Linked DNA regions of Homo sapiens: region 2 is linked to region 1. Evidence: fine-mapped expression QTL. A gene starts in region 1. The other region holds a variant in brackets. All regions are shown on one strand. Distances are between the middles of the regions.

Region 1 (15,190 bases):
ATTAAAAGGGAAGACGATGGGATGAGCAGAAGCATATATGCAGTGAGGCACACTCAGCATCACACACACACACACACACACGAAATTCCATAGTGGAGTAAAGCTAACCGCCCTCTTCCCAGATTCTACCTGCCTGGGAAGGGTTTAGTCTGCCCTTTCACTGATTAAACATAAATATCATTCAGATCCTGACTTTCAGAGTCAGGCTCCTTTTTCAAAGAGGGTTGGCAGGAAATAACCACATGTCTTTATAGAGCCATCATTACACATCCTTTTCTTGTTCATGCAGGGCACTGAGAAAGCACTCAATTTGGATGGGTAGCCCGCATTTCAAATTGATGGGAGCTCAGAGACCAGAATGAGGCTAGTTCAATGGTTCTCCGCCATGGCTGCACATGAGAATCACCTGGGGAGCTTTTGAAACATACGAGTGCAGAGCCTCAACCCAAACCAATTAAATCAGAATTGCTAAGGGTAAGGTCTGGGCATTATTTTGTTTGTTTGTTTGTTGGCTTTTAAAAGCTCCACAAAAAGTTATCATTAATTTTTTTCAGTATGGTAAAAGCAAGTGGTTTTTTTTTTGTTGTTGTTTTGGGTGTTTTGTGTGTTTTTTTTTTTTTTTGGTGTTTACTAGAGATACAAGAAAATTTGCTTTAAAATACTTCATGGGAATAGGTGGTTTTGCTTACAGAAGACTGGCAAAATGTTGATAATTACTGAAGCTGGGTAATGGATACATAGGAGTTGATTACATTAGTCACTCTACTTTTTTTTTTTTTTTTTGAGACGGAGTCTCACTCTGTTGCCCAAGCCGGAGTGCAGTGGCGGGATCTCGGCTCACCGCAACCTCCGCCTCTAGGGTTCAAGCGATTCTCCTGCCTCAGCCTCCCAAGTAGCTGGGATTACAGGCACGTGCCACCACACCTGGCTAATTTTTGTATTATTAGTTGAAACAGGGTTTTGCCATGTTGGCCAGGCTGGTCTCGAACTCCTGACCTCAGGTGATCCACCCACTTTGGCCTCCCAAAGTGCTGGGATTACAGGTATGAGCCACTGTACCTGGCCAGATTTGAAATTTTCTATAATAAAAAGTTATTTTATAGAATCAGCAGAAATAAACCTTTGTTCTCTACCCTCACCAGAAAAATATACAAGTGTATGTGTATAATGTATTTAATATAAAAATATGTTTAAAAATACACAGAAAGCTTTGCAAGTGATTCTAATGTGCAACCAGAGTTGAAAACCACTCGGCTGCCTCACTGAAGGAGGGGCAACTTGATTTGGAAAATAAAGATTTAAGTAAGCAGCAAGAGGCAATCCAGGTGAGAGAGATTCCACTCAGGCTGCGGCAAGATGGAGCCCAGTGAGGGTGGCAGTCCTCCTCTAGTTAGGCACCATCTCCAATTTCTGCCATGCATACATTTGCCTGAATTTTGAGACTCTTCATTCACAAGTAAACTGCAAATACACATACATACACGTTAATACACATGTGTTAATATATACTTACATGTATATTATGTGTATATATATCTGTGTATATGTATTTTAGATAACACTGCCAATGATATTCAGTAGCATGTAATTTTTTTAAAAACACTATTTGTGGAAATGTTGCCTCTGACTAAAATGCTTTGGTCTGTGGAATAGTCATTCAAAGGCCTTCTTCAGGAGTGGGCTGGTGCGGGTGAGGGTTAGGGGTGTGGTCTTTTAACTGGCAAGCTCTACATCTACCTAAGTAATTTATGAGCGATGCTGCTTAGAGGGCGCTGGGTGAATTCTGAAATCAGGTGCTACTAGTGGGAAGAGTCAAAAAGAGCAACCAAGTTTGAACTGCATGAACAGAGAATGCAACAAAGCTCCCCGCATTCCACCTCCCAAATCCCCAACTCACCTATTCTTCTCCATTTCATTGTGAGTTGATCTGAAAGAGGGAACAATAAGAGAAGAATAAGATATTTTTGTCTTAAAGAACTACTTCAACACCAACACAATTCTTTTAACTTCTTTCTCTCCAAAGTTGATAGGAGAGATGTAGAAAGGCAGAAAAATTCACTGGGCTCTACTAAAAAAATTAGTCCATTTGAAGAGTTAGATAAATGTAAATCCTAAAATAGAGTTCAAGGTAAAGCGACAAACCAAGAAGCATGCCTTCTCTAGTGGAAAAATAATCCATTTTAAGACAAGAAATAAAAGGGGTCTATTTATACAAAAACAGCTGCACGATGCAATGTGAATTTGCGTTATATAATACGACAAAGCTTTCTGTAGGCTAAGGGTAGAACAGGGGAGGTAGCACCCCTACCCCACCCCTGCAGTTTTCCCTAGGGGTAGCATACACCAAAATTTTGTGTAAAGTTGCTTGACTATATTGTTTTAAATAGTAAAATAACCCCCTTCCCCAAACTTCTGACTCCCTGAAGTAACTATCATGTACAAGATGCTACTGTTAAATAGCAACCAAATGATTTTAGGAAGGGGTTTCCAAAGTTCAGCTCAATATAAAGATGATAGGTTGCTTAAAGCAGAAGTTAGTGAAATGTGAAGTCCAGCTTTGCCACTGATATACTGTGGAATGAATAAAATTCTTTACCATCCTGTTACTGGTTAACCTGTCTATAAAATGAGAATAAAAATAATTACGAATTATTTACTGAACAAGTATGGACCAATGAGGTAACAGCTGTAAAACTGATTAGAGAGCCTTGGATGAAAGGTGTGATGGATATGAAACCATATGATTAGTGTATTTATGGCTGACCTTAAAGACAAGGTCTGGCCTAAGACTTTATGGACAAGTTACCATAAAGTCATAAGAAGTCAATGTGGCCCCTTTAGTGTCCTCCTCACACAACCCCTTCCTAACCAGTTATAAATTTGGAAGAAGCTACCAGTATTATAAAGGAGCTGAATCTTGCTTGACCTTTCTATGAAAATTCTCTAGAATTTAACCAGCTCAGGAGTTTACTCCCTGGTTCAGCTCATGAATTCTGTGGGGCCATAATCAGCACCTTACTGGGCTTAGGAAATAAATTCTCACAGCAATCATGGAGGAATACCACCTCAAGAGTGCTCAGCCACTCATTTACATCAGGGGCACCAACATCAAGTTCACTCATCAGAGAATGGGGGTAAGGAGAGTGAATGTGGGGGGATGGCAGCGGAAGTGAGGAGGTTGTCTTGAAATGAGAAATTTCCAACCTAGCATTAAACTTCTCTTTCACAGGGATCTTAGGAATCAATTTTTATTCACGAAGAAAAAATAAATGAGAAAATGACAGTATTTTAAGTTTAGAATATTTGTTTTCTAGGTAAACAATATATGGACCTCATGTATTCAAACCAATCCAAAATTGGTTAACTTAAAAGTTTCAGGCTAGGCGCAGTGGTTCACATCTGTAAGCCCAACACTTTGGGAGGCCGAGGCAGGCGGATCATGAGGTCAGGAAATTGAGACCATCCTGGCCAACATGGTGAAACCCTGTCTCTACTAAAATACAAAAATTAGCCGGGCGTGGTGGCGCGTGCCTGTAATCCCAGCTACTCCCTTGAACGAGGGAGTTGGAGGTTGCAGTGAGCTGAGATCGTGCCACTGCACTCCAGCCTAGCGACAGAGGGAGACTCCATCTCAAAAACAAAACAAAACAAAACAAAACAAAACAAAACAAAACAAAACTTTAAAATGGTCAGGCATGGTGGCTCAGACCTGTAATCTCAGCACTTTGGGAGGCTGAGGCAGGAGAATTGCTTGAGCTCAGGAGTTGGAGACCAGTGTGGGCAACACAGCAAGAGCCCATCTCAATTAAAAAGAAATAAAAGCTTTACACTGATTCACTTGGTTATCCCTCAGCATTCTCCAGTCACATTGTTCTGAAGGTTTATTGCCTTCAATGGCCAACAGGATACTATAGTTAACAAGAATCTGGCATATACTGCAAACCTTTGGCTCTAAAGCACGTGGCATTTTAACTTTAACCGGGACTAGTAAGTTCAAAGCCTGACAGATTTTTTTAAATGGATGAAAGTAGATGGGCATAGTGGGATCCCAGCACTTTGGGAGGCTGAGGTGGGTGGATCACTTGAGGTCAGGAGTTCGAGACCAGCCTGGCTAACCTGGCGAAACCCCGTCTTTACTAAAAATACAAAAATTAGCCAGGCATGGTCACATACGCCTGTAATCCCAGCTACTCGGGAGGCTGAGGCAGGAGAATCACTTGAACCCAGGAGGTAGAGGTTGTAGTAAGTCGAGATGGTGCCACTGCATTCTAGCTTAGGCAACAGAGCGAGACTGTCTAAAAATAAATAAATAAATAAAATAAAATGGATGAAAGTATATGCCAACAGTTGGTTGAGATTACCCTCTTTAACTGTAGACAAGGACCACCCCTTGTAGGTGGAGGAGAGGAAAGTGAATAGGTTGAGAAGAGAGTAGAAAATAACAGCACACAGGAAATTCTTACCAAAATATTTCTGGATTCTTTGAAAATATATAAACTAATAAATAGAGTTATATACTTATGCAAAATTCTGAATCCCCAAAATAAACTTTTAAACAAACTCCATAGGAAGCACAACTTCTTCCAAAATTTGAACAAAATTTTTAAAACTACAGATTTTATTTGATTACTCGAGTGTTAAACACATGGTGCTTTTTAAAGGGGGACTTGTACTTAATGGCTAGAGCATTACTGAAGTGCATCTAGTTTACTGAAACTGAGTTATTAATAAAAAGCAGCCCTTTCAAAAATGATCAGTTCCGAGACTGCCAGCCACCTCCATTGATGGGTAAACATTTACGTTTTTAATTAAAGCACTGTAAGAACACACTGATACCTTGTGTCAAAACTATTTTCCATGTGATTATGGAAAACAATGGATAACTCTGGAATCACTGATAAAGGTCAAATTTCACCATTTAAAAATACACTCTAATAAAAAAAAACTAAGCCAAATTACGGCGTATCTGAGATAACCAGGAAAAATTCTTGGGTTCAAAAACACTCCTCATGTCAGGTCACTCTAGCCACTGTCTTATAAAACAACTGGGTGGCAAGTCCTGAACTTCCTCTTTCACGTGAGTGCCAAAGCTTGCTTTACTCATTGAACAAAACACACTTTTAAGAAGTTCTAGATTTCAATTCTAAATAATTAGTAATTGACTTCAAAAATCAGTAGGAAAGAAACTTCCATCTTCCCATATTCCAGCAGTTCTATGGATAATTTCAAAAACAATTGATATTCACAATTTCATTTTCATTTTTGTTGTTTTAATAAGCAACTAGAGAAACGTGAATAAGATCTGCATTTTCAGTTCCCAAGAAGTTTCCTATGTGGCAAAATCTTATCTTTTATTGTCCAAGGAAAAGTACTTCCCTAGACTCTACAAGCAAAAAGCACAGCATTTCAACCTGTAAGAACAAGAATAAACTGTTATCCAAGGGTTATGTAAACCAGCAGTAATCTCTCCCTATCCTTTACCTCAGTTCAAAATTCTGACCATACATGGCTGAGGATATAAAGCCGATTCAAACCATGGGGTCAAGCTGCTTTCTCCATTATGATTGCTTGTTCCTCAGAAAAGGAGCTATTCCAAATGAGTCATGAAGGAAATGATCACACTGAAAGAAAACTGCCTGCTCTTGCCTCACACGTTTGGCTGGTGCTACCTCTAGGTTTAATCATGGTCTCTCAGAAATCCTTACACCACTGAATATATTACACTAACTCACTATCAGTCAGGTGTATGGACAACTGTGATAATCCCGTCTCTAACCATGGAAAGCAAACCAACCCATTAACAGAAGGATTTGTAGCCTTTATTTTTTTTTTTTTGGCATAGTACTGATTATTAAAGAGAAGATACTAGAAAGAATCCATTTCTTGGCTTAAGATTCTTAACTACTATTATTTTTCTTTCCTAATCACCTTTTGGGACCAAGCCACTTCAACATCTCATTTTCTTATCCCCACTAGTGAACATCCCCTACAACCTTCCTGTGAAACTAAGGAAAAAAACAAAGTGTTAAGGTATTAAGCCTCAATAAGTAACTTGGACAATTCCTCTCAAATCATTAGTGGACAATAATAAAAGCAAAAATGGATGATGCTTTTCCAGAAAAATTAACTGAAAGGCCTCAAAATTCTTCTAAACAAAATTAAAAAAATATTGTAACAAAATGCAACACAGCTTAATTGGTTTTACACCATTGCATATTACAAGTCAGTATTAACATCTTTCTTAAAGTGCCTTCATACCCATGCACAAAACTACTGGCTACCACCTTCAGGTAATGCTAAGGTGGGAGGACAAGCAAAACCTACCAGGTAATTACCAGGTTGATCCTTCAAGTGCCATTTTTATTCAAGGGCATGGCACAAGTAATGCTGCTCACATCCTGTGGTTCCACTAACGATACTAAAGAGGTAAACCAAGTACAGAAGACGCAGCAAGAACAAGTGATTTTTAGGTTTAAGTGGGAAATTCCTGGTCTGTATTAAGCCACAGAGGATATCCAAATAGATACTTGCAAGGAGTTATTCATGAGGGTGAGGGAGGGATAAGGATTCTAAACTAGTGACGAAAAGGTCAATGCTTTTAATTTACTGGCAGGAAAGGTATAGTTGAAGGGATCTAATAGAACAAATTTCCTAGCCAACTATATTTTAAGGGCAAAGAAGGGGGGAAACGGGCAGCAACATTGATGGACTATTTGCATGTACCAGAAACTATGCATAGGACTTTAATATGTGATTTAACTGACCATGAACCAAATCTCCAGTGAGATTCACAGCTTTTAAGAACTACGGTATAAGATAATCGATAAGGCTAACATGGAAAAGTTGTAGCATATTAATATTTTGGTATTATATATTCCTCTATCACTAAAGAGGTAGGTTTTAACCTCAATCATTCCTCTTTGCCATTACAAATAGAGATGACAAATTAGAGTATCAAACAAACCACTGTATTTAATTTACATGTCAAGTATGAGATCCTATCACTTATGCCAAGTCAGGTACTTTAATGTGTTTATAAAATCATTACTATGAAAAGTAAAAGAAATGGATAATGTCCAGCATTTTGACTTATAGAAAACTTGCCCTGAATCTGCAACTTCTGAAGGGAAAATACTGTCACCATTGCTAATCTCACTTGAAGCTTCCACAGATTTTTTTGTTCCAAAAGGGAAGAAAAGTGAAATTAAATTTTGAATAAAGTTCATAAAGAAATGTAAAACATTTCTATTTTTCTTTTCAGTTCCCTCAACCCAAACAGAAACAGCTTCCTGCAATGGCTTAAGTCCATGTGTACATTACTGAATCATGACGGCCACAATGTAATTTTATAGGGTTATAATCACAACAGAAAACTTACATTCAGCAGTTTGTGTCACCTACAATATAATCTAAAAGACAGAAAGAAGTATTTACCAAATTACCTGCTACTGCTGTTATTCTTTTTGGATTTGTTCCTCCGTTTTAAGGCATCTCTGTCCTTGTTATTGTATGGTAACATGGAGGCATAACCATGTTCAGCTTCTAGAAAACAGGAGGATCCAGTTAATGAATGGGCCCAGAATATTTAATGCTCTCTCCTCTCTACAGTATTTCCTTTTTCCTTTATTTATCTTTAAAAGAATATTGTGGAAATAATTAAATGGAGTAAGGTGGAATTCTGAGAACAATGATTTAAAAAAAAATTGTGTGAATATCGTCAATTCGGAGCAGGTGTAAGGAGGATTCCAGCTGCTCATTGTTGAGAAAGACACAGTAGTGGCTAGGCTCACGCAGCCTGGGTTTCCCACTGGCTACATCCAGCAGGTTGGTGCGGGTTAAGTGGAACCAGCTCAGGCGAAGGTGCGGGGCAAGCACCGTGAGCCGGGGACCGGGAGGCGCTGCTCCTCTGCCCAGGAGACTGGGGCGCCGGGCCCACCTGGGGGCCGGCCGGGACCAGCCCGGGTGAGGTAAACCAGGGAGGCTATCGGAGGGGGCCCCGGCCACCCACTCGTGAAGGGCTGGGGAAGGGGCGGCGTTCGGGACCCCGGCGGGCGGCAGCCCCTTCTCCACCCCATTCATTGCTTTGGGGCAGCGGCGGCTTCCCTTCGGACCGCGCGTGGGGAGAGCCAGAGGGGTTGGGAGCGCTCGCGGTCTCCCCGCCTCCAACCACCCCCGGAGCGGCTGGGCGCCCGGACCTGAGGCCGGCCCCACAGGACCCCCGGCCTCGTTTCGAGTGGACCCCTCCCCGTCCCCGTGCACCTCTCTCCCGCCGCTCCAGATAGTCGGCCGCCTCCAGCAGCATCTGGATGTTCATCCGAACCGCCGCCGCCATTCTGCACCGGGGGCCGGAGCCACGGGACCAACCCCCACTGCCCACGGGCTCGCTGCCGCCGCCGGACCGCTGTGGAGCCCGCTATGGAGCCCGCTGTGGAGCCCGCTGTGGACCCCGCGGAGCAGGGCTGAGGGAGCCTCTCTGGCAACCACGCTCGACAAGAGAGGGAGGGGGCCAGTGAGCTGGGCACCGCCGACACAGTGACAGAACCCGGAGCAGAGCAGCAGCCGCCACCGCCGCGGAGTGTTTATCCCCGACTCACCATCTCCCCGCCCCCAGCCCCTTCTCTTGACAGGCCAGCTTCGGCCGCGTTCCTCATTGGGCCCCCCAAAGAATGCCCCGCCCCTACACTTGTGCGATTGGGAGAGGGCTTCAGGGCTCCACCCCGCAAAGTCCGCTCCTCTCGCTGGTTGGTCACACTTGACAAGGCCCGGGCTCCACCCCCTCTTTCCAACTGGTGACAGGATTCGCAACTCCGCCTCGTGCTCCTTCCTTGTTTCCCATTGGTTCTATACCAACAACCCGGGCCCCCTTTTGCTTTGTTAGTATTGGCCAAGAGCTGCAGAAGGCAAGCACCTCGCCGGTCTCCCATTGGTGAAGCCTTCGGAAACCTCCCAGCTACGATGATGTCACCTTTCTCCAGGCCAGGCGAGCCCTAAGTGGCTGATGGTCAGCAGCCTGGCTGCTCCTCACCGGGTCTGGCATTGGCTGGGAGGGCCGGTCCGGCGCTGGGCGGCGCTGATTCACCAGCCGCTGCGGAGCTCTGCTCCACCCGGCCTTGCCTCGGACCTGTTGCCAAGACCTGTCCCCGGGGAAAACTTCCGGGGACCTGCCAGGCGTCCATCGAATGGAAGGCTGGCACCTCGTGTCGCCTGGGCGCTCTGCCCCGCTTGGGTTCGGGGCCGGAGCCCTCGGTCTGGTGGCCGCGGCCCTGGAGGTTCTGGGCTTCGCGGAACTCGGGCTGGCGAGGGCCCAGCCTCGAATCCTCCCGAAGAGCGGTGCAGGCTAGTGGCCGGTGAGCCGGGAGCTAGGGCAGGCGCCACGTGGCTGCTGCGGGGCTTGAGAAGAAAAGCCGGCCGTTGTTAAATGCTCGCCGCTCGGCGTTTTTTCTGCCCTCAAGAAAGAGCTGGAATCGGGCTGCAGTATACAGCATTGAGCTCATGCGCCTTTTCCGCACCCCCCTCCACCCCCGGGAAGTGATGGAATAATTAATTACTTTCACGCGAGCGGCTTTTTAAAGCTCAGAGACTTCCTGAACCTACAGAATGGCATTAAACCCTAAGATTCTTTGCTTAAATCTCTTTTGGGGTTTTCCCCTCCCTTTTAATTCTAGATGAAAACACTCACAAGATTATTGTTTTTGTTTGTTTGTTTTGAAAGGGAGTTTTGCTCTTGTCGCCCAGGCTGGAGTGCAATGGCGCGATCTCGGCTCACTGCAACCTCCTTCTCCCGGGTTCAAGCGATTCTCCTGCCTCAACCTTCTGAGTAGCTGGGATTACAGGTGCCCACCACCACGCCCGGCTAATTTTTGTATTTTTAGTAGAGACGGGGTTTCACCATGTTGGCCAGGCTGGTCTCGAACTCTTGACCTCAGGTGATCCACCCACCTCAGCCTCCCAAAGTGCTGGGATTACAGGCGTGAGCCACCGCACCCGGCCAAGAATACTCTTTAAGACGTCTGCAAATTGTGTGTTTCCGCATGGGGTGGTACCAATATAAATGCTTAATAGAATGTTACGTATACAGAACTAAAAAGGTTAAAGATCGGTCCCTAAACCTATTAAAATTTTTGAAATGAAAGCTATCTGGCAAACCAAGCTACACTGCCAATGTACTGACAGACATCTCCAATTTTAAAAGTAGAAATAAAGTTCTTGGTAGGTTGAGTCCCCAAAATACAAATGAGTAAAGCATGAACATATTTCTTTTTTTAAAAGTTTATTATTGTTGCCAATATATAATAGCTTACTATGTGTAGGTATCCTACCTACATTATCTCTAATCCTCAATATAACCCCATGAGGTAGGTTGTGTTAATTACATTTTGCACGTGAAGAAACTGAGGCCCAGGGAGGCTAAATGATTTTCCCTGTCATGCATTCAGCTGCAGACATGGAAACTGAACCTATGTATGTCTCACCCAGAGCCCAAATTACCAATCCTCCTGTTGGTAGTTGTATAAAGACAAGGTGGTTTAAACAGATTTCCAGACTGAGTCACAAAACACTGACAACTCAAGTACTGAAGAAAAAGAAAGACAAAGGTGTAAATGTAATTATGGTGGGAAATATTAAACATGTATTTTTTAATGTCCACAAACCCACTAAAATTAAATCAACTCAATAAATAGAATAAACATGTAGTAAATCATGCCTGACATATAGGCATATTCTGGTTTCAGTGGTTAACTGGATCTAAAAACTGATTCTTTATGAAAATACTAATGAAATACACATACTGAAGGTAAAGGTTTTCAAAGCACAATACAAAGTTGGAAATGAAGGTAGAAATATAACAGTTTTTTTTCTCCATATCAGACAGGTAATGTACTAACGCTGTAACAAGCTCTTTGGGAGGCACATCTCATACATGCAATGGGAACACCTAATTACTATGTTTATGAACTATAAAAGGATCTAAGTTTTAAAAGAGTATTTTTAAATTGGATGTTATTTGTAAAACAAACTTCAAAATCATAAACGAGTGCAATTCTACTAAAGTACCCAAAGTGATAATACTAAAAATGCTTTGATTTCATTATCCTGACATTTTGGATTTTGTATATATTTATATTTTCTCTTTAATTTTATTACAAACATTTGGCATATGTCTTTAGTCTCTTACTCTCAACTCTTTATTTTAACCAAGTCCTATTTCAGTATCATGACCCTTCCTCTACAATCACCCTGACCAGAAAGTCACACTTATTTTTGTCTTAAAAAGGGGGAAAAAAGGTTGAAATCTGAGCCAGAAACAGCAAATAATTTAAATGCCAACAAGTCTAGCTTAGACTCCAAACAAAAATACTACATTATATAAAAATTAGAGAATCAGCTGAAGAATAGACCATGTTCGTTCCTTGGTGGTGGATGAAATTATCAATTAGCCAGCAACACCAACTAGGGATTAGTATAATGAAGACCTTCAAAGGGTGTTTGGTGCCATCTACTGGAAATGAAGTAGTAAGTATAAAACAAAGGTTTTGAGATTCGGAGTTTTCCTAGAAATTATTTTACACAGATGTATGGAATGACCAGTTAATTAAGAAAACCTGAAAGTATAAGTTTTGAAGAAAGAACTGAGAATCCTAAGATAATGAAGAAGTGGTGACTTTCAATACCTAGTGCCTCAAAGGCATGGCCTAAGCATTGACTGACTGAGAGTCACAGCTCCAGAAATAGAAGCTGGGAATTCTAGAATGTTTGAACCAGAATTTTATGACCAGAACTTTAAATAAAAAGTTATGTGTAATAGCATAAACATGGGATGACAATAGTTTATATCTTTGAGCACATATCAAGATAAACTAATTGAGATATATACTTGAAAATGGGGAATTACAAAGACATAAAATATTAGACTTGTCAGATAATCTTTACTGCCAAGTTAATCTCTGCCCAGTCTCCTCTGGGAGGCTTATACTCCAGATGGGCATAGGACAGTATATTAAGAGGTAAATGCCAATACTGAGCAAGCAGCAGGCTCATCACACACTATGGAGTTCTCTGCCGGAGATGCCGCTTCAGAGAGCACCCCAGAGTGGCAGGGAAGAAAACTGTTACCGTATTATAATCCTGAAGTGCCTAAAAAGTTCTATCACTATGGGAATTAAAGCCCCCTATTTATAACTGAGTTTGATACCTCCTAACTACTATGACATTAAAATATATTTTGTCTTATAAGGTTTTGAGGAATTGATTTTGTTCCTCGAAGCAGATAAATCAGGATTTCAAGTTTCTGGTTCAACAGTATCATCTCTTTCTTTGTGGCTATTTTGGACACACTAATATGATACCTAACATCATAATATTAAATTTTAAAAACCTTTAAAAACACTGTTTTGCAAAAATTAGTCACTCTACAAATCTGTGATTTAGAAAATGAGGCAACAGCCAGGGGCCGTGGCTCATGCCTGTAATCTCAACACTTTGGGAGGCTGAAATGGGAGGATCACTTGAGCTCAGGAGTTTGAGACCAGACTGGGCAACATAGTGAGAACTCACCTCTACTCAAAAAATAAATTAGCTGGGTGTGGTGGTGCAGCCTGTAGTCCCAGCTACTTGGGAGGCTGAAGCAAGAGGACTGCTTGAGCCCAGGAAGTTGATGCTCCAGTGAGCATAATTGCACCACACAGCACTCCAGCCAGAGCAGGTAAACAAACAAACAAACAAAAAGGCAATGGCTAAATTGTCATATGTATATCACACAAAACACTATGCAGCAGCTTTTTAAAAGGTAGATTTATATATACTGTCAAGAAAAGATCCCTAAGGCACAGTGTTGAGTAAATAGATTGTAAAATAACCCTTACAGCATTTTCTTTTTAAAGGCCCAAACTATGTATTTTCCCAATTTCCTACTCTGCTATATACATACAGGCATGGACAAAAGATACAAAGCAAAGGATTAGCAGAAAGAATGGGCAATATCATTCTGAGTACTGTTCGAAAGGAGTTTAGCTTTGTCACGATGTTTTAAGACTGTTACAAGAAAGACGCTTGCCACAAATGATATTTCCTAAAAGAAAAAAATGTAATATTTAACTTTTCTTCTGTTGAGGCAAGATAAGTCAACTGCATATATCATAAATAAGATTTTCTTACTTTACAAGAAGGAAGAACTGAGATCCTGTTTTTTGAATGCAAGTTAAATACAAAATAAAGTACTTGGGTAACTAAAGGTAATCAGATGTAAAATGAAGATCAAGGGACTAGGTTAGTGAAAAAAGGTTACAGAACTATATTCACAAATTCAAGACATGGGTTGAGCGTTGCACTCTGTGCCAGCCACTGTGTGGTGCTGGGGCTGCAGAGCTAACCAAAGAGATCCCCCACTTCTCCGAGCTCACTGTCTAATAGAAGAACCAGACGTAATAAAAGAATATAGGGTATGTCAGGCAGTGATAAATGCGGTGAAGACAAGTAAAGGAGGGCTTGGAGAGCCACACGGAGAAACTGGAACCCTCATATATTGTGGATGGGACTGTAAAATAGTGCAGCAGCTTTGAAAGACAGTTTGACAGTGCTTTATGTTTAAGTTAAACATAGTTTCCATGACTTGGTAATTCCACTCCTAAGCATACTCCCAAGAGAACTGAAAACATGTTCATACAAAAACTTGTATACAAATGTTCTGGCACCATTCTTTCTTTCTTTCTTTTTTCTGAGATGGAGTCTCACTCTGTCACCCAGGCTGGAGTGCAATGGTGCAATCTCTGCTTACTGCAACCTCCGCCTCCTGGGTTCAAGCAATTCTCCTGCCTCAGCCTCGCAAGTAGCTGGGATTACAGGCACACGCCACCATGTCTGGCTAATTTTTGTATTTTTAGTAGAGACAGGGTTTCACTATGTTGGCCAGGCTGGTCTTGAACTCCTGACCTCAAGTGATCTGCCCACCTCGGCCTCCCAAAGTGCTGGGATTACTGGCATAAGCCACCACACCCAGCCATGGCACCATTATTTCTTAATAGTCAATAAGTGAAAACAACTCACATGCCCATCAACTGATGAATTATAAACAAAAATGTGGTATAACTATAGAATGGAATATTATTTGCAGACAAAAAAGAATGATGGATGTACTGATACATGCTACAACACAGAGGAACTTTGAAAACATTATGCTAAATGAGAGAAGCCAGACACAAAAGGCTACATGTTGTATTATTCCATTTATATGAAATGTTCAAAATAGGTACATCTGTAGAGACAGGAAGTACATTAGTGGATTCTAGGGGTAGGGGGATGAGGAGTGATTATTAATGGATATGAGGTTTCTTTCTGGGGTTATGAAAACATTCTGGAATTAGGAATGATGGATGCATAACTCTGAGTATATTAAAAACCACTGAATTGTAAGCTTTAGAAGGGTAAATTTTATGGCATATAAATTTTATCTCAACTTTTTAAATGTTAAAAAAAAAAAGAGTAAAGCAGAGTACAGAGACAGGGAAGAAAGTTTCCTATTTTGGATAGGGTGATCAGGAATGACCTTAGTTTGAGCAGAGATCTGAACAATGTAAAGAAGCTACTCGTGCAAATCGGGGAGGTGGGGGAACATTCCAGAAGGAAGAAAGAGCAAGTGAGAAGACTCTGGGAGTAGACACAAGCCTGTTTTGAAAGAACAGCAAGGAGGCCGGCCAGTGTAGCTCAGTGCAGTGAGCAAGAGTGAGGCTGTAGAAAGCCAGGGTCTAGGTCATATGGAGGCCCTGTAGACCACACTGAGGACTGGACTTTATTCTAAATGATTTAAAAAAATCACTGGAGCCAGGAGCAATATGACTAGTTGCACATTTAATTAATTAATTAATTTAGAGACAAAATCTCGCTCTGTTGCCCAGGCTGGAATGTAGTGGTGAGATCTTGGCTCACTGCAGCCTCCGCCTCCAGATTTCAAGCAAAACTCCTGCCCCAGCCACCCGAGTAGCTGGGATTACAGGTGCATGCCACCACGTCCAGCTAATTTTTGAATATTTAGTAGAGATGGAGTTTCACCACATTGGCCAAACTGGTCTCAAACTCCTGACCTCAAGTGATCCGCTGGCCTCAGCCTCACAAAGAGCTGGGATTATAGGCAGGAGCCACTGCGCCCAGCCTTGATGTACATTTCAAAAGGTTCCTCTCTGATACTGGATGGAGA
Region 2 (15,190 bases), 29 kb before region 1:
AGGACGAACCAACAGGACTTAGGGGCATTTGTTATGGAGGTGAGAGAGGGACAGGTCTAAGGCAGTATTGGCAATGTCTGGGGACATTTTTGGTTGTCACATCTTCCAGGGGATAGGGGATGGGGGGGACTATTGGCATCTAGTGAGTAAAGGTCAGAGGCTGCAAAACATCCTGCAATGCACCAAACAACCCACACAATAAAGAACTATCCAGCCCCAGATGAGGTAACTCACAGCTTGCTTATGTGGCAATCTCTTTTCTCTTTTCATTTCCTTTTCTCCTTTTCTTTTTCTTTTCTTTTCTTCCCTTCCCTTTTCTTTTTTCTTTTCTTTTCTTCCTTTCCCTTCCCTTTTCTTTTCTTTTCCTTTCTTTTTCTTTTTCTTTTCTTACAGGATCTTGCTGTGTCGTGCCAGGCTGGAGTGCAGTGTCACGATCACAGCTCATTGTGGCCTAGACCTCCCAGGCTCAAGCAATCCCCTCATCTCAGCCTCCTGGTAGCTGGGACTATAGATGTGGGCCACCATGCCTAATTTTTGTATTTTTTGTAGAGACGGGGTTTTGCCATATTGCTCAAAATCCTGGGCTCAAGCAATTCTCCCGCCCAAAGTGTTGGGATTACAGGAGTGAGCCACTGCACCCGGCCAGGCAATTTCTTTCTAATTCTCACAAAACATCTACAAAGTAGGTTTTATACCCATTTAGTAGATGGGGGAATTGAGATTGGGAGAGGTTAATTTGCCCAGTGTTGTGTAAATGGTAAGTGGCTGAACTGAGATTGGAATTTAAGCCGGCTTGACTTTGGAGCACTCAATTTAGTTAGCTGGAACAGTTTGGTCAAACAAAGATTTTATTAAAATGAATTTAGGTTGTTTTAATCTATTATAAACAGAGCAAGGCAAGTGGGTGAAAATGAATTTGAAAAGCTGAAGTAACCAACAACTAGGTCTTTGTTAGCTAAGCAGTGTATAAGTTATTAACAAAACTCAAAAACAGTTAACTGTGGTTGGAAATATTCATTCTAAAAATCAATTTATGAAAATAAAAAACTCACCAAAAAAATCATCAAGTAAGTAGAGGAGACATAATTGGCTGAAAATAAACTAGGAGAGAAAAAACCCCTAAAACCCCCCTAAAACTCCAAATCCTCTTTTTTGATTGTTCATTTTTATTGCTTTGTTTATTCTTTCATGGTTCAAATTCCTTTAGTATTTTTTTTAATTGCAAAAGCAATGAGTGAGGCTTGCGGGAAAAGCAGAAACGTTGGTCAGTCTATATCTAGAGCTACATATCATATCTATCTATCTATATATATGTTTATATATAGATATATATATGATATGTATGTGTATATATATGATATGAGTGTGTGTGTATAGATCTATATATATAAATATACATATAGATATACACACACACACACACACACACACACACACACACACACTCACTTTTTTTTTTTTTTTTTTTGAGATGGAGTCTTGCTCTGTTGCCCAGGCTGGAGTGCAGTGGCGTGATCTCGGCTCACTGCAAGCTCCGCCTCCCGGGTTCAAGTGATTCTCCTGTCTCAGCCTCCCAAGTAGCTGGGACTACAGGCACCTGCCACCATGCCCAGCTAATTTTTGTATTTTTAGTAGAGACGGGGTTTCACCAAGTTGGCCAGGATGGTCTCGATCTCTTGACCTCGCGATCTGCCTGCCTCAGCCTCCCAAAGTGCTGGGATTACAGGCATGAGCCACTGCGCCTGGGCCACACACTCGCATATTTTATATACATATATAAGAACCTTGAACCCACTTACCCTGCTTAGGTCAAACACGGTGTATTTTTCCAGACCTTTCTCTATATACACTCATATGAATGTATTTTCTTTCATTCTTTCTCTTTCACTCTCTCGTTCTTGCCTTTTCTTTCTTTCCTTTTAACAAAAATAGGATTACATGGTAATTTCTGTTTTGTAAACTTTCATACTTTACTAAACCAATCCCCTATTTTATTTTTTATTATTTATTTATTTATTTATTTATTTATTTATTTATTTATTTATTTTTGAGACAGAGTCCCACTCTGTTGCCCATGCTGGAGTGCAGTGATGTGATCTCAGCTCACTGCAAACTCCACCTCCTGGATTCAAGTGATTCTCCAGCCTCAGCCTCCAGAATAGCTGGGACTACAGGCGCCAGCCACCATGCCTGGCTAATTTTTGTGTGTTTAGTAGAGGCGAGGTTTTCACCATGTTGGCCAGGCTGGTCTGGAACCCCTGACCTCAAGTGATCCACCCGCCTTGGCCTCCCAAAGTGCTGAGATTACAGGGGTGAGCCACTGCGCCCAGCCTCCCCTATTTTTTAACATTTAGATTGTTTCCAACATTTTGCTGTTATAAACCTCACAGTATGGTAATGAAAAGGAATGTACTGCAACCACACAAGAAAAACGAACGTCACAGTGTTGAATGAAAGAAGTCAGACACAAAACATACACAATATGATTTCATTTGTGTAGTATTCTCAAACAGATTGTCAAACCTAAAGCCCAGGCTTAGAGATGCATTCTTAGGAGGCAAGAGGACAAAGGCAAAAAGGACACGGTTACCCCAGCAGCAGGGTGGCTGTGTCCTTCAGGGCTAAAAAGGGTGCTGTGTTGGGAAGGACACTCAGGTGTACCTGGGGGCCAGTGATGTCCTGGCTCTTCACCAGTTGTGTTTTTTTGGGTGCTTACTTTATAATAACTATTAAACAGCACCTTTATGTTTTATGCACTTTTACATCTATATGTGCTGGCCGGGTGTAGTGGCTCATGCCTGTAATCCTAGCACTTTGGGAGGCTGAGGCAGGTGGATCACCTGAGGTCAGGAGTTCGAGACCAGCCTGGCCAATATAGTGAAACCCCATCCCTACTAAAAATACAAAAATTAGCTTGGTACGGTGGCAGACGCCTGTAATCCCAGCTACTCGGGAGGCTGAGGCAAGAGAATCGCTTGAACCCGGGAGGCGGAGGTTGCAGTGAGCTGAGATCGTGCCATTGCACTCCAGCCTGGACGAAAGAGTGAGACTCTGTCTCAAGAAACAAACAAACAAATACATATGCATGTGCCAAATCATGATAAAAAACATTAAAAATGAACAGAATGAAAATAGTTAACTAAAAAATTAACTAGAAATTTAAAGCCCAGGGTAAAACTAAATATGCCGAAATGTAAGCAAAATACTTGAAAAGGCACAAAACGATGCAATTCACCTTCATGCTGCATTAAAATTCTAATTTTTGAAAAATAATGTGGAGTATACTTTTAGACCAAATTGTCCTTTGGGCTGAATTGTTTCCTCTGCAGCTTGTTCTCAACCAAATTGTTTTCTGTCCAATTGCTTTTGTTTTTGAACCAGTCACCTGGATTTTTCCAAAACCCGGGTATTTTCTGTGGCCCTCACTGTACTGTACAATTCCGATGGTGATCAAGGCCAGTGATTAGTAAAAACCTCACTGGCTGTGTTTCATCACCTCTGCTTGGGGCCATATGATACTGGAGACTCTTGTCCTGCCTTAGCTCTGAGCCTAAAGTTCTCCTCTGTCTCTCTTAAAAAGTGTTAATTCGTTCGTTCATTCGTTCATTCATTCATTCATTCATTCATTCATTCATTCGCCCATCCATCCCCAAGTGGCCATCGCTGAGCACACACAGGCATGGTCCTGGGCATTGGGTCAGAGCCGCAGGGGGCCTGCAGGGTCTGCTCCGGCAGAGGTCCGTGTGAACATCAAGCAGGTAAAATACAAGGTGTCATGTGGTGATAAGAGAAAGTGAAATGCATCACTGCGCGGACAGCGGATAGAAAGTGACCAGGGAGCTGCGATTTTATACAGGTGGAGTCGGGGGTCCTCAAGGACACGGGGACGTTTGCACTGAGACCTGAGTGAAGCGCAGTCCGCCGCGAGGTGCCGGGGGGAGCGGCCAGGCAGGCTCCCCAAGTGGGGGCCCCCAGGTGTCCAGGGAAGAGTGAGGAGAGGGGTGGGGTGTAGACAGGGCCTGATCAGGTGGGGACCCGCCGCGGGGGAGGCCTGAGTGCTGTCAGCCGGACGGCATTCGCGGGAGGGCAGGATTTACAGGGGAGGCGGGGGGCGTGGGCAGAGCGGGAGACAGGGAGAGGACCTCGGAGGCTTCCGTGGGGTCCGGTGGCCCCGGAGGCAGGGCAGCCCCCTCCCTCGGGGCCTCTTCCTGAGACCAAAGGGCTCCACTCTGTAGGAGCAGCCAGCCCCCTTTCCTCCAGGGCGAGCTGCGGTATTCAGCACCGCCCTCCGTGGCTGCAAGCCTTCCCAGCCAGCCCGGAGCCTCCACTGATCCCTCCTAAAGGCATCTGGTCCAAGCTGCCCCCACTGCGGCCTGTCAAGCACTTTTGGATCCTGGTTCTGTCAGGCCCTCAGTGCCATCTGGCAACCACGGGGTCATCCCTAGATGTAGAGAATGTGCCATCCATACCCGACTGCAAATGGATGTATTGACGTTGAGTGGAACAGGCTGAGGACAGTGTCCCCTTCATGCCGCTGGACAGCTTCCTGCCGTGACCTGTCTCTGCTAATCAAACCTTGGTGGGGCCGAGGATGGTGTAATAAAATACTGAAATTTGCAAGCGATTAATTTTGATTGTTTGTTTGAGACAGGGTCTCACTCTGTGGCCCGGGCTGGAGTGCGGTGGTGCAATCGTGACTCACTGCAGCCTCCACCTCCCTGGGCTCAAGCAATTCTCCTGCCTCAGCCTCCCAGGTAGCTGGGACCACAGGCACAGGCCACTACCTCGGCTAATTTTTTTTTTTTTTTGAGAGACGGGGTCTCCCTCTGTCTCTCTGGCTTACTCCTAAAAAATCTGTAACATCCGATTCAAAGCTAGTTCCATAGAACCACTATTCTCATTTACTTGCAATCCAACGAACTTTCTCCAGTTGAGGAGAAAGGGTGGCATTCCTTCCTGTTTCTGGCAGGGGAATCAGACCCAGGTCAGCACTGCCACTGCCTCTGGCCTCTGCGGATATCCCCAAAGGAGCCCCAGTTCTTCTAGACAGGAGGGATTATTTCCAGCCCTGGGGCACCACCCTCCTAGTCCTTGGCAAGTTTGTTTCCATAACCAAACAAACAAACAAAAAAACCAAAAACCCCTCACATTCACCTTCCCTCTCCACACCCTTGACCCCAATAACCTCACTCCTGCTTAGTCAACCTCACTTCCGTCTGCTTGCAAAAGCATTTTTTATTTTACACTGTGATTCCGCATGGCAGTATCCTCTTGTTCTCTACAAAGGTGGATCGGAAGTAACTTCCAAAATTACAAATACTAAAATAGGAAAGATGTTGAGTAAAAGCCAAGGCCAGAGAAGAGACTAAGGGGAAACTGGGTCACAAACATGCACATTACAGGTTCTCACAAAATTACTAAAGGTGAAGTGTGAATTTGGCTCTGAGTTTCCTGACAGCCAAAGGGAGAAGAGAAAGATGATCTGTTGCATGATTCACTGTTTCCCTGAGGTAAACACACCTGTTTTTCAGGGGAAAGCAATGGGATTGCTGCAATGAGTTCCAAAAGAATACTTTTCCCTAACATTATAAAGTGTGGTGACAAGAAAGCAGGGCCAGGTTCCATCCTGATTATCTCTTTACTCTTCCACTGATACCTCTTCTGGGCCACACACTGTTCCATGCCCTGTGCTAGTCTGCATTGACTGGTAGCTTCTTTGACCAAAGTTATTAACTGCAAAGTAGCCAAGAATCATCACAACCTCTGCAGTTGCTCAGAGGTCATACTTGAAGTGTGGAGTTGTCCCCGTCTGGGTAGAGCTCTACCTACGGTTGTTCTGAATTTGCAGTGCAAAGGTACGTGTGAATGCGGGAACTGAAGTCATTTGGCCTCTTCTGATGAGATACTTGCAACATATGGGCATTTTAGCAAGGGCTTCCCTCTGTCTCTCTCTCTGAGCCACCTCTGTATGATCTGGTCTCTCTATGAGAGGAACTGCCCTGTAGGGCTGGCGGGGTCTTAGGGTCGTTTTGACCTTCCGAACAGCACATAGGTGAGATACTACCTGGAAAATAGCCACCCCTCCACTGTCAATGCCCACATTCTGTCCCTGAGTCACCCTCTGCTCCCCCTTTCGGTTTAACCACTTCCTGCCTACTGTTTGTTGTCTAAACAGCACAGTCAGAATGACATATTTGAACACTTCCCCACCCTCTAATGTAATTTTCCCTTCCAAGCTTATTTCTTCTCTGAGTGTTGGAATTTTGTATTCTGAAAATCCAAGTCACATGCCAGACAGTGTTCGAACGTTCTCTCCTTGGCTGGGAAAATGATTATAATTGCTCATATGTACTGAATGCTTTCTGCATGTCAGGCATGGGGAAAAGCTGTTTGCATACTTTACCTTACTTAATCCCCCTAGCAGCCCTGGGAAGTACATGCTGTTATTATCCTCACTCTACAGACCGGGTCAGCAGAGTCCCAGATACTTGCCTGGGGTCACCGAGGGTGTTAAGGGTGGAGTTGGCATCGACCCTTAGCTCCATTTGACCAGAGTCTGTGCACGTGACCATCACCCAGGACCACCTTCCGGGGTACCTAGGGGACATGGGCACTCCCCCTGAGTTTCTATTTCCACTTGGCCAGCCTATTGGTCTCTGTTGGTCATTACTGGCTCGAATGCTTCACAGCAATGGTTTTTTCCGCCTTCTGGGGGATGACAGTATCAGCGTGGCAAGGCGAGTGTGTTGGATGTTCTGCTTGTAACTAAACAGATACTGGTTCTCCCACGCCCACTGGTCCCTGTGCATGGCTGGGGGCTATCTCCAGGTGTCACCCAGCCCGGCTGTCTGGCTGGCCAATGGTGTTGGTTGGCCAGTGCCTTTCTCTCTTTCCCCTATCCCTAAGGCCCTCCCAGGTGCCTTCTCCTCCAGGATGGCTGCTTTCTTTGAAGGCAGACGTATTTCTGACACAGAGCTCCCTGCGTTGACTGTCTTCCTCACCTCTGCCCCCAGGCAAGGCCAAGAGCATCCTAGAAAAGCCCCTGCCCTTTTCTCCAGGGCCTGAGTGGGCCTCTCTAGCTCCAATACCCCCAGTCCACCCGCTCAGACCTGGCCTCAGGTGCATGCCCTTGGCCTCCGTCCTGGCTCTTCCTGTGGTCATCCCTTTGGATAAGATGGTTCGCCTGTCCCATTACATCCCTAGCCTGCCTTCACCAGACACGCTGCCTTCACCCACAGCCGGGGAGGCTCCCGGAAGCTTCAGCCAGTTAGAGCCTGCCCTGCCGTCTGCCTGAAAGTGGGTTAGTCACTCTGTCCCAACACAAAGCTTCCCTTTCCTCTGGGCAACATGTTCAACCCAGCCAGCAGCCAGCAGCCACATCTACCTCATCTAGTCTCCACAAGGACACTCGCAGAGGCAATGACTCCAGAATTCTGCATGGAACAGAGTGGGCAGGGAGCTGCCTCGCCACCCAGTTTGGGCTGAGCCCTGAACAATACTTCCTGCAGAGACCCTGCCTGTGGGACCCTTGGCCACTGGAAGCTGAATGTCCTTTAC[T/C]TTTATATATATTTTAAAATAATTCCAACTTTTATTTTAGATTCAGGGGGTGCATGTGCAGATTACGAGGGTTTGTTTTTCTAGTTTTAGTTTTTTGAGACAGGGTCTCTCTCTGTCGCCCAGGCTGGAGTGTAGTGGTACAATCATAGCTCAAAGAAGCTTCGACCTCCTGGGCGCCCATCCTCCCATCTCAGCCTCCAGAGCAGCTGGGACGACAGGCCTACGTGTCCTTTATTGATGGGAAGGCCTAAGTGGGCAATGGGCCTTCCATAGTCTCTTGGCAGAGAGCCTTGGTGTGGCCCTCCTCATCTAGGTCATAGTGACATCGAAGAGGTGAGTCAAAGCTGCACTGGGTAATGGGGACTCCAGGGCCTAAGTAGAAGTCATGTACGGTAAATACTGGTTGAATAAATAAGTGATGTCACGGGGTTCGCCACCAAGACGACATGGGATAGAGAGAGTGTCTTCCTTTGAGAGCATGCTGGTTTATTCCCACTAGATCCCCAGGAGGATCAGCAGTAGAGGAGGGGGGGTCCTTCTTCACAATAGGCACAGAGGGAAGTTGAGATTGAGAGGACAGCCATGGCCTAGTAATTGTATTGTGAATTCCCATTTTTCTGCTCCACTGTCTGGAATATAAGGTCCCCTCCAAAGAAAATAGGTAGCCTCGTTCAAAGGCTTAAAAAGGAAAAGATGCCGTATATGGAAGACTGATGACAATTTGGCACAGCTCTTGCAAAAATTGGGGCAAGGGAGTGTGGGGCTCAGCAGCCCGGCTGCTGACGCTTCCAGTCCCACCCCTCACTAGCTCTGTGGGTTTGGGGCAAAATGCCTCACTTCTCTCTCCCTCAGCTTCCTTACCTGTGAAGTTTGGATAATGCTAGCGCTCCCCTCCCGGGGCCAATGTGAAGGTTCACGGAGGCCCTGCAGTGGCGCACCCAGCCCTTAGCACTCAGTAAATGTGGGCTGACCCTCGTTATGACATGGGCCCATACAGCATAACAAGTGACATTTTTTCATCCAGCTACTGTGAACAAGTCAGGAAACTTCGGAAATAAGATTTGTCATCTTGTGGGGGAGGCTATTTTATGTGAAAGCTGTCTTTCTAATTATCTACAGTTCAAAGCTTCCTCTCCGCAACCACAGTAAACAAGGGATCCTGATGCTTTAGAGAACGTAGCTTTTGTTGAGGTTGTGACCAATGCACTATTAGGTGGGTTCCATTTGGGGCTTGTCCACAGTGATGGATCCTAGAATCTCACATCCTAAAAGGGCCCAGCTGCCACCCCTACTCTTTGGAGAAAGCAGACAAGGCAGGCCACTTTCCAAAGTAGAAGTACCAGGAAGTTCCTTTTTCATCAGACCTGCAGGCAGAATGCCAATGCAGTTAACTTAAAAACCTTTCAAAAATTTTAGGTGGTTTTTAGAACAAGAAGTCATTGGTCAACAAGGAGAAAGACAACTTTTTCCTCCTCTTGACTCCGAAAAAGTGCTCTCCTGGTGTAACAAAAACAGGAAGACAGACTGCACTTGGCGAACTTGCCATGATGAGGACTTGAGCGCCAATGAGACTCACGCTGGAAAGGTGGCAGCATGAGGCAGGGGTTTGTGTGCTGTTCTTAGATGTGTCCTCACCTCTAGGACGGAGCCTGATATGGAGCAGGTACTCAAGCCGTATTTGTTCAGTGAATGAATAAATGTATACTAACCAGATGGGTTAGTATGTAAAGGAACGGACATCCTCAGCCAATGCCTCTCTCCTCTCAGTGAGTTGTGCAATCCACAAGGTCTTTCCTTTGACATGCCCCAGGTCCAGGCCACACCGCAGCCCCACGAAGCTGGACTCTGCCTGAGCACCTGCCTCACTGCCCTGGATGTTCTCCTTCCCAGCAATGCTCCTTTCCCAGCAAACACTCACTCCTCCTCCAGGGCCCAGCTCGAATGCACCACCTCTAACTTCTCATGGAGCTTTCCCACACAACTTTATTCCACAACTAATTACACTGCATTAAATTGTGTGCATATCTTTCCCAGCAGGCTACAGGCTGCTCAAAAGATGCAGAAGTCTTGGCAGTGCTTACAGCCTGCATCATTAGAGGCACCCAAAACAAAGGGCAAGTCAGCCAAGAATGAGTCAACGAGCAGGTGAAACCAGTAGGTGGGATGATGGGGCAGTGGAGAGGGTGGGACTGTGGCTAATTCTGATCAACAAATGGGCTCAACTGGAGCCACACAATCTCAATCCTCATCACAGGCTCCAAGGGCTGAAAACTTTTAGCTAGTGAAGTTTCCCTTAAATTAAAAGAAAAAAAGAAATCTGATGAACGCAGTTCTGCAAGGACAACCACGAAAGGGTAAATTGTGATACAAAACATCAGAAAGACCAAAATTTCTTTAATAATGAAATAATTTATTATTTGTTAACAGTTGAACAATACAGTTTACATATACACAGCAAAGATTCTCTAAAACATGTAGTAGTTTCTAAAAATGCATGTGCTAACTGTAGTAAAAAGCACCATTCTCTATGATCTTGACACAGGATTTACATTGGCGTCATATTTACATAAAGAAACATCTGGAAACAGAATAGCATACCCTTTCATCTGCTGCTCCCCTGTCAGGCTGTGTGTAGCATTAGGAAGATGGCCCCCCAAAAATGATGGTAACAGCAATATTCCAAGAGCACCAATTCTAGGGATGGGGTAAAGGCAAGTTTGGTTGTCAGGTAAAAGCTAAAATGAAGAATGCTCCCTCAACTTGCCACCCCACAGAGAGAAGAAATCAAAATGTAAAAATCTGGATAAATCTTAACATTGGGTGCCTTATGAATTCTCACTTTATGATTTTGAGAGAAGGTCAAATACTCAATCTCTTCAGCCATTCAATAGCTGAATCTAGCAGTGCCTGTCAATTTCTTCTTTCAGAAGAATCTGAGAAAATCATCCATGTAATATTGATAATGAAAAAAACCATGATAAATCACCTATTGCACACCCCACCCTCTAACCCAGTTATCTTTGAAAGCAAAGCATCCTACAGTCTATAGAGATCAGAGGATGTAGAATGAGAAACCACCTCATCGAAAAGGGTCTTTGGGTTGTCTTCTACCAGGAAGAGTTTTTAAATAGGAGTAGCCAGCTACTAGACACGCTAAACACACTGCATCAGAGTCAAACATAGAAAAAGAATAGATTGACATGCAAGAAATTGCGTTTAGCCTTTTACTACCTGATGTTCAACACTCAGGGAAGGCAAAGGGGGACAGACAAACTTGGGGAAACAAAGAAGAAACAGAAAAGACCAGGATGTTAAAGTCTCCTGTGTGGTTCATGAAAAAATAGAAAATAAAAAAAGACCAAGACTTGGGGGAAGAAATAGACTGTAAAGGACAATGATAGTGGTATTCTCGCCAATACAGTATGGTATAAAAACCTAAATAATAATATGTGTGTGTGTGTGTGTGTGTGTATATATAGATACTTTTCAAAAATAAGTTCTCTCTTGAAAGGATGGGGAAGAGGCAAGAAGAAATAAGCCCACAAAATCTATTCTCAAGCTCCAAGATATTGCTAGATGGTTATTTTGAGCATCACAATCCTACCTAGTTTACACTTTTTTCTTATCCCCCAGGATTTGCTCTTGGCCGCTTTGGGGATGCAGAAGAGAGGCCCATAGGAAACTCAGGTTGAGGCCCCTTTGTTGCTTTTGAAAAAGTAGAGGTTAAAGGAAAATGCCCACCTTAAAAAATAAAAACAAAACAAAACACTCAAGTGGCCAACTGCAGGACGAGGGCCTACTTAATGTTCAGTTCTGAATCAACACTGAAATTATTTTCATCTTAGGTTGACAGGGAAAATCTAGGTCCTGCCTAAAAATGTGATGCATTTTGAATCACTAAACTAGCATTAGGTGTGTGACTACAGAAAGGAGCCAGCAGTTGCTATCAGCACCTTGAAGAATTCAAGATCTCTGCTTAGCAAAAGAAAACCAAAATACAGACGACCTGGGTGCTCGGCCCACCATTCAAAGCCAACAGGGGATGGAAAGCTATGTTTTCAGGATGTTACAGAAGCACACATATATATTTTCCCACTGCATGAAATTAAATTAGACTGCGTACTCTTATTTTTCCCACTTGCGTTATGATGGTATCAATAAGAGTGCAGTTTAGATTTTTTTAGTTTTTTAAAATCAACTTTCACATAAAAATATGCATGTGCCTATATTTATACACATCTGTATTTACGTACAATTGTCAAAGTCTTAAAGGCTGGGGTTTATATCTCTGCCCATCCCCTCCCAACCCCAAAATCCCTAATAGAAAGGTTTTCATCTTGCTTAAAAAGACAAAACAACTAAAAAGACTATAGCTCTTAGCAGTCAGGCTGGTGGATCAGTGAATGAGAGAGGACAAATTGGCGAATCAGGGCTGCCGATCAGCCGCACGGGGCGCGGAGGATGGGGTTGGGGGGATTAGCTGCCTTGGGCTGAGTTTGCTGGTCCTGAAGATTACAGTTTTGGTTAGAGAGAGAAGCCTGTCTAGCATGCTGACTCGGTCTACCTCAAGCTTTGAAAGTAATGTCTAACCCTGCTGCCAGTTTATCACAAGTGCATTAAAAATATAGAGATCTATCAAGTTCCACATTTATATGCAATCAAACTGAAAAGGACCAGACAAACAGTGCAAAGGTCAAATAATTACTGTTTTATATTGGGACAGTACATTTCAGATTTCAACCAAAAGACAAAAATGCAGTTTAACTCAAAGGCACAACAATTGAAACACAGAAAATAATGGCATCTCTTGGATGCCTTATTTCTAAATTAAACAAAGAAGTACACAAATTTTGTTCCCTTCCCTCCCCCAGTGCAAGCCCACAAGCTTTTTCCAAAGTCTTGAGCTTTTGATGCTGTCCCGCATTGTGGACTTGTGAGGCGCTTGGATGTAGCAATGAAACAAAATGCTTGAGAGGTCTAGTGAATGGCATTCAAAAGGGACCTCAAAGTGCAGACATATCTTTTTCAAATATGTTACAGGCTGAACTGGCTCTTTGAACACTATCACTCTGCTTAAATCCAGGAAGCAGGCTTTAAAAATGCAAAAGGCATACAAGTTGTATTTCAGTGCAAATCTTTAGCTGGTTATTGGAAAAGATTCCAAAAATTAAAAAAAAAAAAAAAAAATCCTTTGTGTCACCTGCCCCTCCCCCCACCCAAAGCCAAAATGAAGAAAAGACAGAACAAAACAAAAACAGAAGAATTACAGGTGACTTTGGAATCATTTAGGAATCCACTACTTCCAATCAGAATGTTTAGAAAAATACATTAAAGAATCATTTTTTAAAAAACACAAAAGTAATCTTGCTTTCTGAGACTGCTCTTCGGGTATAGAATGAGCTTCCGTGTGGAGTGCGTTTGAACTTTGACCTTAGCTGTGTGCGAGGTGCAGGCGCTGGGGGAGCTTCAGGCTGTGGTGTGCGAGTGACCGCAGGGGAGCGTGGGGTGGCTGCCCGCTGCCGAGTCAGCCGTTGAGCCCTTAGGTCGCAGTGCGTCCGTGGATTTTAGTAATGTTCTCATCACTTTGTGACACACTCTGCTTCAGCATCACAGATTTTACAAATGGTTCAAATTCAATGAAAAAGATTCGCCAGAGGCTGAAAACATCAAGACCTCAAAAATATGAATGCAAAAATATTCAGGGGAATGAACTAATTTTGTAGATACCTACATACAAAGTTTCTAGAACATCTATAAAACCACAAAGTCATAAGAATTTGTTTTCCATTACATTAGTTTATATAAAATGAATAAATAGTATTTATAGATTTAATGTGTCTTATGTACATATACATGTGCTCTGTTTTAGCTTAAATAAAAATGCTACAAAGTCGGAGACCACTTAAGGGAGAAATCATAACCAAAAAGAAAAATCAGCCTTTTAAACTATCAACCCAAAAGCCTCCATAAAGAAGTTTCTGGGTGTGTCCAAAAATAATCAATAAGGAGAGGAGTTCTAGTAACAGTGTACCATCCTCTCCTGTTCACCTGCAACAGAGAGTAGAAATGTGGACTTTTTCTTTCACTGATAATGGCTACTAGCTCTGCTAGTGCCACAGCTCAGTTATTGCTGAAAGTTCAATAGGAAAATAGATTATAATTGGACCAAATGTCACTATTTTGGGGGGGGAAAAAAGGATAATCACTGTGTTAAGTGGGAAATGGAGATCTCATTTATCTCTGAGGTAGGAAAAAAAAATGTTCCAGAGACAAGTAGCATTAACAAAGTTGGAGGGGAGAATGTGCCTCGAGATAGCAGAACACAGCGAGGTCCCAAGAACATCGCACAAAAATAGATTGTACCGTTTTGTTTGTGAGAACAAACAATTTGGAACTTTGATGAGCTGTGCAACCCCAGAGACACACTATCAAGGTGTCCATTTTAAAGTGAGAAATACTGCTCCCATCCACACGCGGCGCGTCGGGGGAATGAGCATGCGCGGTGTGAAGGGCGTGTTTTCTAGAGGTATTCCTGACTTCCTCACTGGTGGTGAGGTCCATGGTTAAGTGCTCTTAAATGCTGCTTTCAAAGCTTACTTTGGAGTTCTGAGATCAGGATCTCAATTTCAAAAGTTTGTTTCCTTCAGTTTCCTAAGTACAAGACACACTTGGACATTCCTCCTAGGCAAGTAACACAGTAAGCCAGAAAACTGGAAGAAAGGTCTGGGAGAGGACACGAGGAGAGCAAAGAGGGGGATTGCTGAGATGTGGACATTGCTTATTCGGTCTAAGAATTCTTGGATGCTTCAAATTGATTGGAATGTATAGTCTCTCAGAGACAAATTTTTATGGCGAGAAAAAGAGAAGCTAGTGGATGCAATCAGAAACCCACAATCCTAAGCACCTCCTTGAAAACAGTTACAAAGCTGATTTTGGTCAAGGTGGGACACTGAAGTTTACGTGCAAGGGAGTTGTGGGCAGGTCCAATACGTTACCTAATCAGAACCAACAGGGAGAACCTTCAAGGAGACAGCCGCAGTGCCCACTCTCTTAGAGACCAAGACACGCCTTGTGACTGTCCTGCAGCTTTATTCTCTTGATGCTGGTGCTGGAATAGCCCTCATCACTGCCGAGGCTCTGCATGCTGCCCCGCTCGTCAGAGTCGCTCACACTGCTGCTGCTCCAGTCCAGATCACCTGTGAGATAGTCCGTGCTCTCCACGTCAACGTCGATTTCTTCTGCAGGGAGGACAAGAGAGAAGGACATTGATGAAAGCGCTCTGCAGAAAGCTCAGGCGTGGTGGCTCATGCTTGTAATCCCAGCACTTTGGGAGGCAAAGGCGGGTGGATCACTTGAGGTTAGGAGTTTGAGACCAGCTGGGCCAACACAGTGAAACCCTGTTTCTACTAATACAAAAATTTGGCTGGGTGTGGTGGCTCACGCCTGTAATCCCAGCACTTTGGGAGGCCAAGGTGGGTGAATTACTTGAGGTCAGGAGTTCGAGACCAGCCTGGCCAATATGGTGAAACCTCATCTCTACAAAAATAGGAAAATTTGCCAGGCATTGTGGTGTGTGCCTGTAATCCCAGCTGCTTGGGAGGCTTAGGCAGGGGAATCGCTTGAACCCGGGAGG

The links.
Region 2: its variant is fine-mapped to the expression of MXD1 in whole blood (TOPMed, PIP above 0.99).

Annotation. Positions count from the first base shown.
Region 1 is chr2:69,908,473-69,923,662 of GRCh38, reverse strand. MXD1 (MAX dimerization protein 1) reads right to left here and starts at 8,554. Exons shown (of 6, transcript NM_002357.4): 1 at 8,260-8,554; 2 at 7,443-7,542; 3 at 1,898-1,927. The coding sequence starts at 8,332. It overlaps LOC124906176 (small nucleolar RNA U13), which reads right to left and starts at 10,968; the gene lies at 10,864-10,968. RefSeq lists a silencer at 7,951-8,180 and enhancers at 8,831-9,030, 9,131-9,240, 8,723-9,328, 9,341-9,390.
Region 2 is chr2:69,937,702-69,952,891 of GRCh38, reverse strand. MXD1 (MAX dimerization protein 1) reads right to left here. Exons shown (of 6, transcript NM_002357.4): 6 at 9,947-14,795. The coding sequence ends at 14,608. It also overlaps a transcript of ASPRV1 not described here. Among named protein-coding and RNA genes, the nearest start is that of ASPRV1, 16 kb to the left of the region's middle. RefSeq lists enhancers at 5,210-6,409, 15,048-15,190. The variant T/C (reference allele first, on the strand shown) is at 7,558.